2 linked regions of the Homo sapiens genome follow. The protein of the gene in region 2 purifies or fractionates together with the protein of the main gene of each other region. This does not show direct contact. Each region holds a gene or a part of one and is shown on either strand. Other genes may lie near its edges.

Region 1 (9,661 bases), on a different chromosome or scaffold from region 2:
TGGGGGTGAGGCAGGGGGAGAGAAAGGGGCCTGCACTGGGGGTGAGGGAGGGGGAGAGAAAGGGGCCTGCAGAAGGTGCACTGCCAGAGCATTTGGGGCCTGTGGAGAGGGTGTGGCCAAAGGAGACAGAGGGGGTGAGGCAGGGGGAGAGGGAGGGGCCTGCAGAGGAGGCAAGGCCAGGGCAGGTGGGGCCTGTGGAGGGGGCGTGGCCAAAGGAGACAGAGGGGGAGAGGGCAGGCCCTGCAAAGGGGGTGAGGCCAGAGCAGGTGGGGCCTGTGGAGGAGGCGTGGCTATGGAAGAGGGCGTCTCCGGAGGGGGCGTGGTCAATGGCGAAGGTGGTGCTTGCAGAGGGCATGGGGCTGGACAAGGTGGAGTCTCCAGATGGGGTGTGGTCAGGGGAGCAGAAGCTGTCTGCAGAGGAGGCGGGGCTAGAGAAGGTAGGTTCTCCAGAGGGGGTGTGGTCAGGGGAGCAGAAGCTGTCTGCAGAGGAGGCGGGGCTAGAGAAGGTAGGTTCTCCAGAGGGGGTGTGGTCAGGGAAGCAGGAGGTGTCTGCAGAGAGGGTGGGGCTAGGGAAGATTGGGTCTCCAGAGGGGGCATGATCAGGGAAGAGAGAGGTGCCTGAGGAGAGTGGGAGGCCAGAGAAGATAGCGCCTGCAGAGGGTGTATGGTCAGGGGTGAGCTTAGGGGTGAGACAGCAGGAGAGAGAGAAGTCTGCAGAGGGGGTGAGGCAGGAAGGGAAAGAGGGGCCTGCAGAGGGGGTGAATCAGGGGGAGTAGAGGCCGGCCGAGAAGGTGAGATCAAAGAAGCTTGGGTTTGCCTAGGGGACATTGTCAGGAAAGAATGTGTGGCCTGCAGAGTGGGTGAGCCCAAAGAAGTTGTGGCCTGCAGAGAGGACAAAGCCAGAGGAGAGGGAGGTGCCTGCAGAGACGGTGAGGTCAGAGAATGTGGGACCTGTATTGGGGGAATGGTCTGGAGAGAGGGCGGGGCCTGCATAGGGGGCGTAGTCATAGAAGGTGGGGCCTGTGGGTGGGGCGGAGCCTGCAGAGGCGGTGAGGCCAAAAGAGAGGGAGAAACTAGAGGAGGATCCTGCAGAGAGACTGTGGTCAAAGGAGAGGGAGAGGCCTGCAGAGGCAATGTGGCCAGAAGAGGAGAGTCCTGCAGAGGAAGAGTGGCCAGAGTGTGGGGCGTGGCCTGGAGAGAGGGCGGAGACGGGGAAGGACTGGCCTGCGGAGGGGGCGTGGTCAGAGCAGAAAGGCCTGGCTGAGGGAGTGCGGCCAGGGGAAAAGCCGAATTCCCCAGAGATGTTGCCGGAGAAACAGGGCCTTGTAGAGGAGACATGGCTGACAGAGGAGGTGTGGCCAAGGGAGAGAGGAGAGTCGGAAGAGAGGGCAACGCTGGATTAGCTTGGGTGGGGGGCATACTCTGCAGAGGGGATGAAACTGATGGAGAGACTGAAGCCACAAAAGCGGCTGTGGCCAGGGAAGAGACGCCTGCTTCTGGAAAGGACATAATCAGCTGTGTGGGTGGAACTTGCGAGGGGGGCGTGGCTGGTGGAGAGGGGAGGGTCTGCAGAGAAGGTGGAGCAGAGGGAGAAGGAGGGGCTAGAGGAAGGGGCGTGGCCAACTGACAGGTAAGGCTCGACGAGTGGGGCGTGGCCGGCAGGGTGGGCGGGGCCTGACTTTGGAGAGCGGCTGGCGGAGGGGGCGTTACCGGTGGAGAGGGAGGGAGCGTGGCTGGCAGGGGAGTGGCTGCATTGTCGGGAGGCGGTACGGGTCTTGCCTTGGTACCCGATGGAGAGGGTGTGGCCAAAGGAGAGGAAGAAAGCGGTCCTAGTGCTGGGGCTGCGTCCTTCCTTGGGGGTGTGACCTGAGGGGGTCGCAGAGCCTGCAGTCCTTTCGGCTTGGGCTGCGAGGGATGCGCAGGAGCCCTGGGTGTTCCGCGGGCTGAGGGCCCAGAACGGGCTGGGGAGGAGAGAGGGGTGGCGCTGGAGCTCAGGGAGCGCGAGGCCGGCCTCTGGAGACCCCCACCGGCGCTGGGCCGCCTCCTGGCAGCCGGGCTTGGCTCGGTGGTACTGTGCTCCGAGGCGCTGCTCACTGATTTCCGGGGGCCCTCTGTCGGGGGCCGTGGCCGGGCACTCGGAGCTGGCCGGGGGAGCCCCACCTCGGTGCCCGCAGCCCGGGACCGACGGGCCATGGCCGGGGACGGGGTTCCTGGGGTAGGCCCGGAAGTGTCTGGAGAAAAAGTAGAAGGCCAAGGGTCACCGATACCTCTGAGGCGGCTCCCCTTGCTGCCCAGGAACCCCACTCTTCTCCAGGTCACGTACCTCTCCGTGCCCCAGCGCTGAGGGCACTCCTTTTGGGAGCCTCTGTAGCTTTTCCTCTGGCCACAGTTTCCTCCGCTGAGATCCGGAGTCCCTTCTGGCCAAGAGGGCCTGGCCTGGAGACAGAAGGGGCCACGCTCAGGCCTAGGTCTTTGTTTGGCTTCCCAAGTCTCTATTTTCCCATCTGTGAAATGGGCATGTGCCCTCTCTGAGGACCAATAATGGCTTTCACCCAATTTGTGCCCAGTGACCTGCAAGTGCTCCCGCGCCCCAACTCGTGTAAAATAAAAGGTTCCAGACTCTGTGACGCTAACCCTGGCTTAGGAGACTGGGGGAGAGGGAGCAGGTTACCTGGTGGTCCCGCTGGCACGCCCTGGGCTAGAAACAGGGCCTGGGCTGGTGTTCTTGGCAGGAGGAGCTCTCTCCCCTCTCCCAGAGGCTGGGGGCCTGGAGGCTGCGGGGAGAAGGCCGAGTCACAGGTGCCCCGGAGAGGTGGCAGTGGAGGTGAGACTGGACAGGTATTGGAAGGGGGAGGGAAGATGGGGGCGGAGCTGAGGAAGGAGGCTGGGGTACCAGGGTTTCGGGAACTTGTCCCAGCACTCCGCGTTGGTCCCGCTCGGGGAGCAGACTCGGGAATAGTGGCCCCGCCGATGCCCCCCGCTCGCTCTGCCAGAGGCTTTCGCCCCACTGCTCCCGCAGCTCCCAGAACTCGGAGGGCTGCGGGAGTTACTGGGGGAGGGGGTCGAGGAGAGCCTGGGGGCCTGGGGGTCAGAAGTCCAGGAGCGCGAGCAGCCGGCGTCCGCGCGGCGGCCCCTGCCTTCGCCTTGTCTCTCTTGTTGTCCATCTTGCACCTGAAGAGACAAACCGGTCCGCATCCCAGGTTCTGGACAGCTACGCCGCCTCCAGAGACCTGGACCCTGCTACCTCACTGCCCTTTCGCAGCATCGCCACCCATGGACACTCAAACCTCGGCCTCGGCTTCCATCCGCTCGGCTCCCACGCACCTACACCCACTCGCCAGCCCCACTGCTCCTCGCTGTCCCCAAGTCCCACCCCCCACCGCTTTTCCCTAAAGCGAAGAGGCCCTGCCCGCCCCAGCCCACCGCCTCCCCCGCCTCGGCTCCAATTCAGGACCGATCTCCACGCCCCTGCCCCTTGCCCCTTCAGGGACTCAGACCGCCAGCCTCGAGAGCGGGGGACTGCCACGGGCTCAGGATGTCGCATCCCTCCAGACCCGGAGCGCACGCCCGGGTCTCCCCGCCAGCCCCCATCGGCCTCCCCTGGCCTCCCCGAGGGATGCCTGCACCTGCCGGGAGGCAGAGCGGCCCCGCTGCCCGCGAACGGGCTCCGGGAGACAAAGAGCCGCGTCCCGGGCCCGACCCCTCCCCCAGCCGGGCCTGGCCCGCGCCCAGCCTCTCCACCTGCTCGCGTCGCGCTCACCTCCGCCTCCGGCCTCCGGCCGCTCCTCACAGAGTCGCCTGGGGTGGGGCCCGGGCCGGAGCGACGCGGTGGCCGCCAGCGGCGAGGAGGCGAGGGGAGGGGGCTGCGGGCTGCGGCGCCGGGGGAGCCGAGCCGGTCCCGCCCCTCGGCCGCGGGCGGGAGAGCCGGGGGCGCGCGCTCGATCCGGACCCGGGAGCGCGGCCGGCGGAAGCGCGCCGAGGGGGATGGGGGAGAAGCGCGCTTTGGAGAGAAGGGTGGCTTCTCTGCGGTCCGGGGGAAGCCTGTTTCCCCAGCTGCGCCTGAGGAACCCAGATAGTCAACGGTTGGGACTGGGGGAGCAAATCCCTGGGGTCCTCCACTGTCCTTCCCAACACATACACCTGCCCCGACCCCCACCACAACCACCTGGCACCAAGGACCGCCTGGACGCGGATAGGCTGGGCCCTGGCAACCAGGAGGCGGGACCACCGCGCCTCTGGCCCACACACCAATCCGGCCGCTCGGTGGCCCTGGCACTATCCAGTCCTTCGCGTCTGCGAAAGCTAGGCCGCCCAGGGTCTCTGGGGGGCAGCCGCCCTCCGCCCCACACCCGAAGGTGTTCCCCAGACGCCAGGAAACCCCTTATCTGGTTGGGGGGTCGAGGGACTGCTAAGAGAATGCTGCCCTGGGAATTTCAGGATGCAAGGTAGACCCCAGATTTTGGGGAAGATAAAGAAAGGAATAGGAGGGAGAGCGACAGGAGACACAGTATATTCTGTGAGAGGTGACCCAGCCGTCTGCAGGGTAGAGCACGCCCACCCTCCACACCCTCCCAGCTAACGGGATGTCAAGTCAGCCCAGACTTCCTGGCAGAGCTGGGCTTCCGGGGGACAAGGTTCTGTCGACCTAGCAGGTGTCAAAACAAGTGCATAAGGCCGGGCGCGGTGGCTCACACCTGTAATCCCACTGCTTTGGGAGGCTGAGGCGGGCGGATCACTTGAGCTCAGGAGTTCGAGACCAGTCTGGCCAACATGGCGAAACCCTGTCTCTACCAAAAAATACAAAAATTAGCCGGGCATGCTGGCGAGCACCTGTAATCCCAGCTACTCGAGAGGCTGAGGCAGGAGAATCGCTTGAACCCGGGAGGCGGAGGTTACAGTGAGCCGAGATTGCGCCACTGCACTTCAGCCTGGGCGACAGAGTGAGACTCTGTCTCAAAAACAAAAACAAACAAAAAAACAAAAACACAAGTTCATGAAGGACGCAGAAGATCCTTTACAAGGGTCCCAGCCCAGCCGGAGCGAGTGGGAGGTGTCCTGTTGCTGACTTCAGCCAGGGCAGGGGCCTCGGTGGAGAGCGGTGCTCCAGGACTGTGGCATGAAGAGGGTGGGAGCCTGAGGGTGGAAATGGCCATTCCTCAGCTCCCTCTCCTTATAAGAAGAGTCTGGGCCGGGCATGGTGGCTCAGGCCTGTAATCCCAGTACTTTGGGAGGCCGAGGTGGGCGGATCACAAAGTCAGGAGATCGAGACCATCCTGGCTAACACGGTGAAACCTTGTCTCTACTAAAAATACAAAAAATTAAACGGGCGTGGTGGTGGGCGCCTGTAGTCCCAGCTACTCGGGAGGCTGAGTATGGCCTGAGTATGGCTGAGAATGGCGTGAACCCAGGAGGCAGAGCTTGCAGTGAGCCGAAATCGTGCCACTGTATTCCAGCCTGGGCGACAGTGCAAGACTCTGTCACACATGCACAAAAAAAGAGTCTGGCCTTGTCACCTCTGTCGGCCAAGTCCCCTCCTCATATGGCCTCCATGAGCTTTCCGCCTGGATGTCGCATCCCTCCAGACTTACAGCCACTTTTTACCCCATTCCAGGAAACCAGCGCCCTGTGCCCCACTGCTAACCCCATCGCAAGCTCATATGCACAGTTCACTCCCTCCTGGAAATCAGGGGGCCTCCATGCACAGGAAACAGATAATGCAACTTGGCATCGGGTGAACTGGGGTTGGGGGGTAGGGACGTTGCGCCCATTTGAGGTTGCAGAAATGGAAGGCAGAGAAAAATGACAGAGCTGAATGCCATGCTTTGACCTCCAGATTGGATCATCCTAGGCCTTATCTTCTCCCTCAGTCTAGCAATGATCACCCGTGTGAACCCCTTGTGGCATGACACCAGCCTGGTTCCCTGTCTACCCACCCACACCCAGTGCCTCCTTCCAAATCACATCCACCAACACAGATCCCTGCCCTCCTATTTATTTATTTTTGAGACAGGATCTCACTCTGTCACCCAGGCTGAAGTGCAGTGGCACGATCATCACAGCTTCACAGCTCACTGCAGCCTCGACCTCCCAGGCTCCAGTGATCCTCCCACCTCAGCCTCCCAAGTAGCTGGGACTATCAGCCGAGGCGGGTGGATAATTTGAAGACAAGAGTTCAAGACCAGCCTAGTCAACAGGGTGAAACTCTGTCTCTACTAAAAATACAAAAAAATTAGCTGGGTGTGGTGCCTATAGTCCCAGCTACTTGGAAGGCTGAGGCGCGAGAATCGCTTGAACCCAGGAGGCGGAAGTTGCAGTGAGCCGAGATCATGCCACTGCACTCCAGCCTGGGTGACAGAGAGACTCCATCTCAAAATAATAAAAAATAAAAAATAAAAATAAAAAACAAAACCCAGATCACTTGAGGTCAGGAGTTCGAGACCAGCCTGGCCAACATGGTGAAACCTCATCTCTACTAAAAATACACAAATTAGCCGGGCATGGTGGCCATGCACCTGTAATCCCAACTACTCGGGAGGCTGAGGTAGGAGAATCGCTTGAACCTGGGAGGCAGAGGGTGCAGTGAGCCGAGATCACGCCATTGCATTCCAGCCTGGGCGACAGAGCAAGACTCCATCTCAAAAAAACAAACAAAAACAAAAACAACAACAAAAAAACAAGTAGCTGGGACTAAAGCCTACCCCACCATATCAGGCTAATTTTTAAATTTTTTGTAGAAACAGAGTCTCGCTGTTACCCAGGCTGGTCTTGAACTCCTGGGCTCAAGTGATTCTCCCACCTCAGCCTCCAAAACTGCTGGGATTACAGGCAGGAGCCACCTCACTCAGCTTCACCTGCCTTCTGACTATGATGCAAGGGTTCCTCCAGGGTACACAAAACCCACCCTGTAATTAATTGGGATCTGGACTCTGCCCTCTTATAAAAACACTCCCAAAACCTCCATCAACAAGAGGGATGAGTAACATGAATCAAAGTGTCCCCTACAATGGAATGAAACTTGGCAACAGAAAGGAACAGACTATGCTACTCTCAAAACAGGGACTAATCTCAAAAGCACACCGAACAAAAGAAGCTACAAAAAACACGCACTGTATGATTCCATTTATAGAACATTCCAGAAAATGCGACTAATCTGTAGTTACAGACAGCACATCAGTGGTTGCTTGGAACAGGTGGGGGAGGGACATTGAATGAACTGCCCAGCGTAGCCACTCTTAGGCATGTGACTCTCAGGTGAGGGCCAGGCGACTGTAGTCCCAGCTACTGGGGAGGCTAAGACAGGAGGATCCCCTTGAGGCCGGGAGTTTGAGGCCAGCTAGGGAAATATAAGGAGACCCCGTCTCTAAAAGAAAAATAAATAAATCACAAATATATATGTATATGTGTGTGTGTATATATATACATATATACATATATATACATATATACATATATACGTATATACGCATATATACATATATACATATATACGTATATACGCATATATACATATATACATATATACGTATATACGCATATATACATATATACATATATACGTATATACGCATATATACATATATACATATATACGTGTATACGCATATATACATATATACATATATACGTGTATACGCATATATACATATATACGTGTATACGCATATATACATATATATACATATATACATATATATATATATTTTTTTTTTGAGACAGAGTCTCACTCTGTCACCCAGGCTGGAGTGCAATGGCGTGATCTTGGCCCTAATTTTTAATTAATTAATTTATTTTTGAGGCGGAGTTTCACTCTTGTTGCCCAGGCTGGAGTGCAATGGTGCGATATCAGCTCACCGCAACCTCTGCCTCCCAGGTTCAAGCGATTCTCCTGCCTCAGCCTCCTGAGTAGCTGGGATTACAGGCATGCGCCACCATGCCCGGCTAATTTTGTAGTTTTAGTAGGGATGGGGTTTCTCCATGTTGGTCAGGATGGTCTCGAACTCCTGACTTCAGGTGATCCACCCACCTCGGCCTCCCAAAGTGCTGGGATTACAGGCGTGAGCCACTGCACCTGGGCATATATATATATATATATATTTTTTTTTTTTTTTGAGGAAGCAATTTCTTTAATTTTATCAGAATCCAGGACACAACAAGAAAAGCACCCAAAAACCACATGGAGACAGAAGATGAGACACAACTCCTCCCCCACCCCTTCCCTGCTCTAGAGTGGGGACAAAGTCAGAGTGAGACAGCTTGGGGGAGACCTGAACCTCAGTCCAGCCCTACAGGCTCCAGGCCTGCAGGGAAGGAGGGTAATGGGGAGGCAGGGCCCAGCCCCCCAGTTTGGGGAAACAGCTGAGGGAAGGCCCCCCTCAAAAGGCTCCACCTCCTCACCAGCACTCCTGCCCAGGGACAGGGAGCCCACAGCAGCAAGGGGACCTCAGGGCCATGGCCACCTTCATGACTGAGAAGTAGCTGAGTGGAGGCAGGAGACACACGATTATCTGGGCAGAATCAGTTAGAGCAGGGGCCTGGAAGGGCCCCATGGGCCAAACCCTGAGGTCACAGGAGGGGCCCCAAAGCGGGGCTAGTGAGTGAGGTCCTGAGTGAGTGGGTCAGCAGCTGGGCCCCTTTCTCTAGCTTCCTGTAGCCCCTCCAATACTGCTGCCAGGGAGGCCTGCCTCCAGGGAAATGGGATAAGAAAGCAGCCTGCCCCTGCTGCAGACAGAGCCAGGTGGCTGAGGCCAGGAAGGAAAGCCCGGCCAGGCCTTGCCACCTGCCCCAGAGGCCTGTGGGAAAAGGACAGGCCAGGAAGGGTGGGGACAGGGGCTCGACTGGCTCAGATCCAAGATGGTGCCACGCTTGCTTGCTGAGTCCCCCATGAGCTGGGGCACCGCACTGGGGCCAGCGACTAGTTAGACAGAAGGCAGCAACTTCTCCAAGAAATTCCTTCACAGCTGCCATCTCCTGAGGACAGCAGCTGTGCATGACACCCGAGTATGTCTTGAACTGGACCCTGGCAGGTGTGACAACAGCCGTCAGGGTCCCAAACCGTACGGGCACCATGGGGTCCAGCTCCCCATGGCACTGGAGGATGGTCAGGCCCTTGCCACTGCCTTTAGCTGCCTGGGGGAAGGCCCGGTGCAGAGGCAGCCAGCAGCTCGATGCTACGATACCAGCCAGCGGGTGGGGGCAGGTGAGGGCCGTGTAGAGGGACAGGGCCCCGCCCTGTGAAAAGCCTCCCAGGACGATTCGATTGGCAGGGATCCCGTTCTTCATTTCATGCTCAATCAAGGCCTTGATGTTCTCTGCTGCCTTCTTGATGCCAGCCTCGTCCTCTGGGGCATCTGGACTCAGCCCCATCAGGTCAAATCAGGAAGGTGTCACCATCTTCATGTTGAGAGTCACAGGGATCCTAGGCACATGGGGACAGATGGAATTGACGTGAGGGAGCCGGACGGTGGAGAGGGCGTCAGCCCAGCTGTGCCCTGTGTCTCCAAGTCCATATAAAAAACTAACCGCGGCTGTTTCCCGCTCAGCTCCAGACACCGCGGCAGCATCAGTGAGAGGGGCGTAGACGTGGTGTTACCACACATACACCACATGGCTCCACGGCGGGAGCCTCCACTCCCTGGGGCTTCCGAGGCCGCTTGGGCGATTC
Region 2 (6,533 bases):
TCCCAGTACTTTGGGAGGCCAAGGCGGGCGGATCGCTTTGAGCCTCGGAGTTTGAGATGAGCCTGGGCAACATGGAGAAAGCCCATCTCTACAAAAAATACAAAAAAAAAAAAGTTAGCTGGGCATGGTGGCATGTGCCTGTCAGTCGCAGCTCTGCAGTGAACTGTGATGATCGTACCACTGTACTCCAGCCTGGGCAATAGACTGATAGTGAGACTCTCTCTCAAAAGAAAAAAAAATATAGAAAAAATGAGGAGCAAGAACAAATAATATAAAACTATTTGAGCCTTGAAAGTAACTTTTAAAACATATAAGTAAAAAGTGTTTTTGACACTTTTAATAATACACTGCAAGAACTCCCCCTCATGTAAACTAAGGGAAGTGTGTGCTTTGTTTTGTTCAAAACTTTAAAAGCAGAGCATGACTCCTAGTAAAATCTCATCGCCAGCAGCAAACTATTCATGGTACCATCTCCATGTGTAGTTACCATTGTTAGTGACTCTATATACTGGAGCAAACATCTGACTATTCCATTATATTATTTTCATGATGTAGTTGTACCTGAGCATTTGCATATTGAAAAATTTATTTTATTATAAATCACTTTCATTTTTCTTTTATAATAGGGGATTATGGTCTATATCATAACATACTCAATGTAAAGTTATATTTAGATATATTATGAATTTCATGATGGTAAAGGGGAAATCTCAAAATACTTTTAAGAAAGTATCATGTTTGACAGTTGACAATCTCTGGATTTGATGACTGTTAAGGTCCTTCTCAGCCTTAACAGTCTGAGATTTTTTTGTAACCATTACTTCCAACAATAGCTTTGTTCTATTTTGAAACTAGTGTGTGGCAGGCACTGTAAGTGGAACAGTATCTCATTTAAATCTAATCACCCTTATAATAGGTAGTGTTACTGTAACTAACTGTTTATATGAGAAAACAAATTCAGAGAAGTTAAATAATGTGTTCAAGTTCACATACCTAGGTAGAGCTGGACTGACTCCAAACTCATGTTCGTTTCACTCACGAAAAGAACATTAACATAACATACATTACTTTACCTAGAAGAGTTAAACACTATCAGTCAACAAGTGAGGTTAGGCTAATGTAAGCATCTGTAAGAAAGAGTCTCTACCCACCACAGCAAGAAAGAGGAGAAGATGGAATGTATAAATATAGTAGGCACCTTTTTAAAGTCAGGACCAATTAATCATGTAAGGTAGTTATAAATGGATGACATCTAAAAATATATCAGAATAAGTTTCAAGCCATGCAAAATTCACCAAAACAATTTTTATTTCCAGTGTTTAATTGGGTATGCACACAGGCATGACACAGGTTTGGATTCATTAAGTCCTCATGCAGAATTATATTCTTCTCGATAAAGAAGCCAGTTCCATCCAGGATCCACTATCTACACACCTATGTTACAACATTATATCAAATCTGGTATCTGAAGAAAAGATACACATTTAATATGTTCATTTAAGTTACGTATTTTACAGAAAGATTAAAAATTCAAGTCACACAAAACTCAAAAACTGTATTAAAAGTTTGAATATAAAACTCAGATCCACCTGGAATGACTAAAGAATGGAAGTTCTGTATCCACCTGTGTTAAAACTGGTAAATGTAATGATATCTGTTACCAATAAAACGCATTCGTTTATTCAATGTAAGTAAGTTATCTAATTTTAACAATATGGCACCCTAAAAACCAACTGTATTTTTATGATGAGGCACTTTTGTTAGTGATGAAACCAAAAGAACAAATTTGCTGCACACTGATGCCAGCGATTTTCTTCAGTGATTTTGGGTATATGCTATGTAGTAAGTTGCAACAAATACCTTGCTCATTTGTATACAACTATCCGATATATTTTTAAATATATATATATATATATATGTTCTTCTGGCTGTAGTAATGCACTGTAAAGCTATTTCACAGTGCAAAATGATGAAACCAGCCCAAATGAAGGCTGCATAATAACAATTCTGATACAAGAAAATATTGACAGAGTTACTGGAACGTGTAACAGTAGTTTTTTTACTTGCTAGAGTGGACATACCCCCAGTTTAAAGACAGGGATGAAACTCTGCTTTACTGCCTGGGGTTTCAGACAGTTTATGAGGTTGGGCATTCGCTGCAGAACTAGCATTTTTGCTCACGTTCTGGAAGCTTTCTCCGTTTATTTGGTCAGGTGACTGTGGTGGTATGGAAAGAAGGGGCCTGTTTGTTGAAGCCAAGGTGCTGGAAGAACTGCCTGTGTTGCAATGAAGAGACAAAGGTGTGTCGGTCGTGGCTATTTCTCGTGTGCTTGGGTTCTCTGTCTGGGGATCTCCGATTTCTCCTCTGCTAAGGTCAGAGGTACTGGTGCGTAGGCGTTCCCTGGCCAGCCAGTCTGAGATGGAAAGGTCCTGGGCTGAGCATTTTGGTTTTAACCGGTTTACAGCTGAAAGTTCAGATTCTCTCTCCCCGCTCTGCTCATGCACTTTCCAAAAATTCAAAACGCTGATTTCGGTAGCATCTCTGTGCCCTCCTAGTGTATGTCTGCGCCGGATGCTTTTCCTTTTAGCAGTCTCGGCATTCACTTTGTGATTCCCTACTCCAAACATGTCATCCGCAGGGGCTCTGGGTCTCAGTTTTAACCGATCTGCTATTTTCGTTTTCCATGTGGGTTCCTGTTTTTCGGATTCGCCTCTGGTGGGTGTCAGTAAACTCCCAGTTGACTTTCCTTTTTTCATAACATCAAACACTTTAGTTAACGAAGGTGCTTCTTTCTCATTCTTGGCATCTCCTAGACTTCCACTATCTGACTTGAATCTAGCTGATTTTTTCCTGGAAAGAGTATCACATTCGATGAGTTTATGGGAACTGAAGAGCTGTCTCCGGCTATCTAAACTTGATGTTAAACTTCCCTCGGTGCAACTTAATTCACTTCCTTCAGAATTTCTCCGGCTGCTCTTAGTCACTTCTTGCAGTTTTCCTCGGAAAAGCCTCTCTGAAGTCAAGGCTGTGGGGAACACGGGAAACTCGCTCTCGCTGTCGGTTTCCACAGGCCGCCCTTCACTGATGAGTTCGCTTCTCTCGTCATCTGCCTCGTCCCCCTTGCTCTCTGCCACGGATTGCACCTCAGGGCTCAGTCGACTGGAGTCCAGGCTAGTCAAGTATGTAGCAGACGATGTGGTGGAATAATCTGAGGTGATGGTGCTGACGTTGGCCAAAAACTCGCTATGTTTCGTTTCTGGACTGGTTGATTTCTTCATGGAAAACCTTGCCAGGGAGGCCTGGGAAGACGTGCTGAGCAAAGTGCCAGAGTCAGAGCCTGTCTCTTCAAGGTGGGAGGACTTCTGTGCCAGAAGTGACCTGGGGCTCTCTTTCAGGATGGCAAAGCGACAGCTGAGAGTTGGTGACTTGTTGTGTTTTGAGTTGTGTGGTGGTGAGGGTTCTTCAGAAGGCGTGCTCTCTTTTCCTAGTGATATCTTTTCATCTTTTGTCGTGCTGGGGTCTTTCCTAGTGCTGTTTTCTTTGGCAATGATGATCTTCTGTTTTCTGCCCAGTGTCTCACTTTCTTTTTTGGACTCCTCTTTAGTATCATTGTGACACTGTTCCACATTTTCTTTCTTAAAAAATACATTGTCCAGTTCATCTTCTGAGCTGCTAGGCTGTGCTTTTTCTTTCGGCTTCTTCCTCTTGCGACTAGCAGCTGCAAAGATGGAGGACACAAGCAGTTCCCTGCTATACTGATCCTTTCCAGATCCCCAAGAACCCTGGGAAGCAAGAGAGAAGAAAGACTCTGAGCATAAGAATGCAGCTGAGTTCATTTTCTGACAAGCTTGTCTCCCAAATATTTCTTATCAAATTATATCTACTAAAGCTCTGGAAGCATTAACAGTGCAATTAGCTTTTTTTTTAATACCTCTTTTTACCTTGAACCAAAGTCAAATTTTTATTTAATGAGTCCAATTTCTTGCCTCGTGGTATTTAACTGCCAAGCCACAGCTCATACACATCTGCCTTTCAGGAAAATAGTCTGTGCTTAGTGCTGATTCCTATCAAAATCCCCCAAACACCTGACCTTCCCTCCTTCCACAGTGCCCAGGCATTCTTCACTTCCTTCATTTGGAATAGAGGCATGGGATAGGTAAAACAATATTGTGACACGGTCAAACATCATATTCTGATATAGGTTATTAAACATCACATTCTGATATAGGTTATTAAATGTTTATGACTGACTTTGATTTTTCTAATTACAGGTACCACATGATATAGATACTGTATCAGATAAGCTCATTGAGATAAGGGAACTCTGGTCTTCCATTAGTTCATTCAGGCAGGATCTTCAAGGATCTGCCTTAAGTAAATCAGGTTGGTAATGTCTTCATTTATCTCAAGGTAACAATGGAATTAGAATATTCAAAAAACAGGCCAGGTGTGGTGGCTCATGCCTGTAATCCCAGCACTTTGGGAGGCTGAGGCGGGCAGATTGCTCGAGCCCAGAAGTTCGAGATCAGCCTAGGGAACATGGTGAAGGCCTGTCTCTACAAAAAATTAAGTGGGCATGGTGGCACGCACCTGTGGTCCTGGCTACTTGGGAGGCCGAGGTCAGAGGATCACCTGAGCCTGGGGAAGTCAAGGCTGCAGTGAGCATGAGGGTACCATTGCACTCCAGCCTGGGTGACAGAGTGAGAACCCACCCCAGGAAGGTAGAAAGGAAAGATCAATTAACATAAGTACAATTAAATCCTTACCACAGAAACACTGTAGTGCAGTGTTATTGGGAAAGTTATTTGCTATGTATAATAGGTTCTTTTAAAAAAAATTTTTTAAGATGGAGTTTCACCATGTTGCCCAGGCTGGTCTAGAAGCCTTAGTCTCAAGCTATCCTCCCACCTCAGCCTCCCAAAGTGCCAGGATTTACAGGCATGAGCCACTGCATCTAGATATAATAGGTTCTTGATTGCAACTATTAGTTTCTTCCTAAATATCTGCTGGTTTACCACACACTTTTTAAGACAAGCAGGTAGGCAGGAGGTATGCTGAGTAATAGAAACAGACAGTATATTTCTCTATTGCCTGCAAATCTTAGACAAGTTAAAACTGCTCTATTTAAAGTCTTAAAGTAAAAATTTAGGCTGTTCTATCAAAGAATTTAGGCTGTTCTATCAAAAATTCGCTAAGATGAAATCACAGATGAACAGAACTTTGTTTTTACAAGTTATAAAGACTTTCATAATTATCCAGCACATTTCTAATGGTTATTTACATTTCCCCACATTGTGCTGAAGACTGTAGGGGATAATGGTTGTGACTGGGCTCTCAATTGGGAGACCTTGATGTCCATCCTCTCTAGCTTGCTGGGTACGAGCAAGGGATTCACTTTTAAACATCTCAGTTCCGTGGCGAGAAGCAATTAGATTATACTGTCTTTCAGATTTCCTTAAGGTTCTCTTTACAATTCTATGATCATATATGTGTTGAGGCAAATTACTCTACTTTTCTACAGAGACTGTTTGTTAGAAGTAGTTAATCATGTCATTGGGATATCCACTATATTACAGGCATAGCATAACACCACTATGGATAAGATGAAAAGGCTACTGTAATAACAGGTTAAGAAAAATGCATCTAGAGAAGGGAAAAGCAGGGATTTCAAACAGGTCTCTCTGGTTTAAAATCTCATCTGCTGGCAACAGAGTTAAGGAAACTGTTCTAGATTAAAGAAGTCTAAAGAGATTTGACAAAGAAATGCAAGGAATGATCCTTGACTGCATTCTGTATAAGGAAGTAAAGAATATTACTGGGACAATCTGTATAAAAACTGCACATTAGATAATAATGTGTTGTACTTACCTCAGTTTCCTGAGTATGAAAATTACACTGTAATTATATAGGAGAATGCCCCAGTTCTCTGGTGATACATGCTGAAGTATTTAGGAGTAGTGTTATCTCTACAAGTAACTATCAAATGATTCAGAACAAAAGTGTGAATTTACAATTGATGAATCTAGGGTAAAGGATTTGGGTGCTATTATTTTAGCAGCTTTAGGGTAAAGGATTTGGGTGCTATTATTTTAGCAGCTTTTCTGTAGGTTTAACATTTTTCAAGATAAAAAGCTGGGCAAAAAGATAAACATCACAAGTAATAGAGACATGATAAAGCATTTTTGTAAGAATTATAATTTAATCATATGGAGTCCTGTTATGATATTTAAACATGATATGTAAAATTCATGTCTCATTACAAAATATAACAATGTTTTAAGAAGTCTGACAATTCCAGTTGCTACTGCCTCAACAGTGCAAAATTTAGATCCACTGACTTGACAAAAAACTTTCTAAGAACTATAAATGTCCCACAAACTACTCAAAAAGTTGTGTAATTGAGGGAACACAGATTGTGTAAAAATATTATTTAAAAAATTAGTGATTTCACTGAAAAGGCAAGACTATACTGTCTGTAAAAATGCATAACAAAAAATTGGTATTTCTGAAATATTTACAGATGATATGATGC

Evidence for each region.
Region 1: the proteins of ARHGAP21 (region 2) and PRR36 purify together in Homo sapiens (affinity purification with mass spectrometry; 2 studies listed by BioGRID and IntAct, with this or other methods). This does not show direct contact.

What each region holds. Positions count from the first base shown.
Region 1 is NC_000019.10:7,870,526-7,880,186, forward strand, and holds the start of PRR36 (proline-rich protein 36), read right to left. Parts: upstream 3,866-9,661; 5' UTR 3,761-3,865; intron 3,172-3,760; 5' UTR 3,165-3,171; coding exon 2,894-3,164; intron 2,775-2,893; coding exon 2,672-2,774; intron 2,437-2,671; coding exon 2,324-2,436; intron 2,232-2,323; coding exon 1-2,231.
Region 2 is NC_000010.11:24,582,324-24,588,856, forward strand, and holds the end of ARHGAP21 (rho GTPase-activating protein 21), read right to left. Parts: intron 3,784-6,533; coding exon 2,089-3,783; 3' UTR 1,291-2,088; downstream 1-1,290. UniProt on the Homo sapiens protein: Functions as a GTPase-activating protein (GAP) for RHOA and CDC42. Downstream partner of ARF1 which may control Golgi apparatus structure and function. Also required for CTNNA1 recruitment to adherens junctions.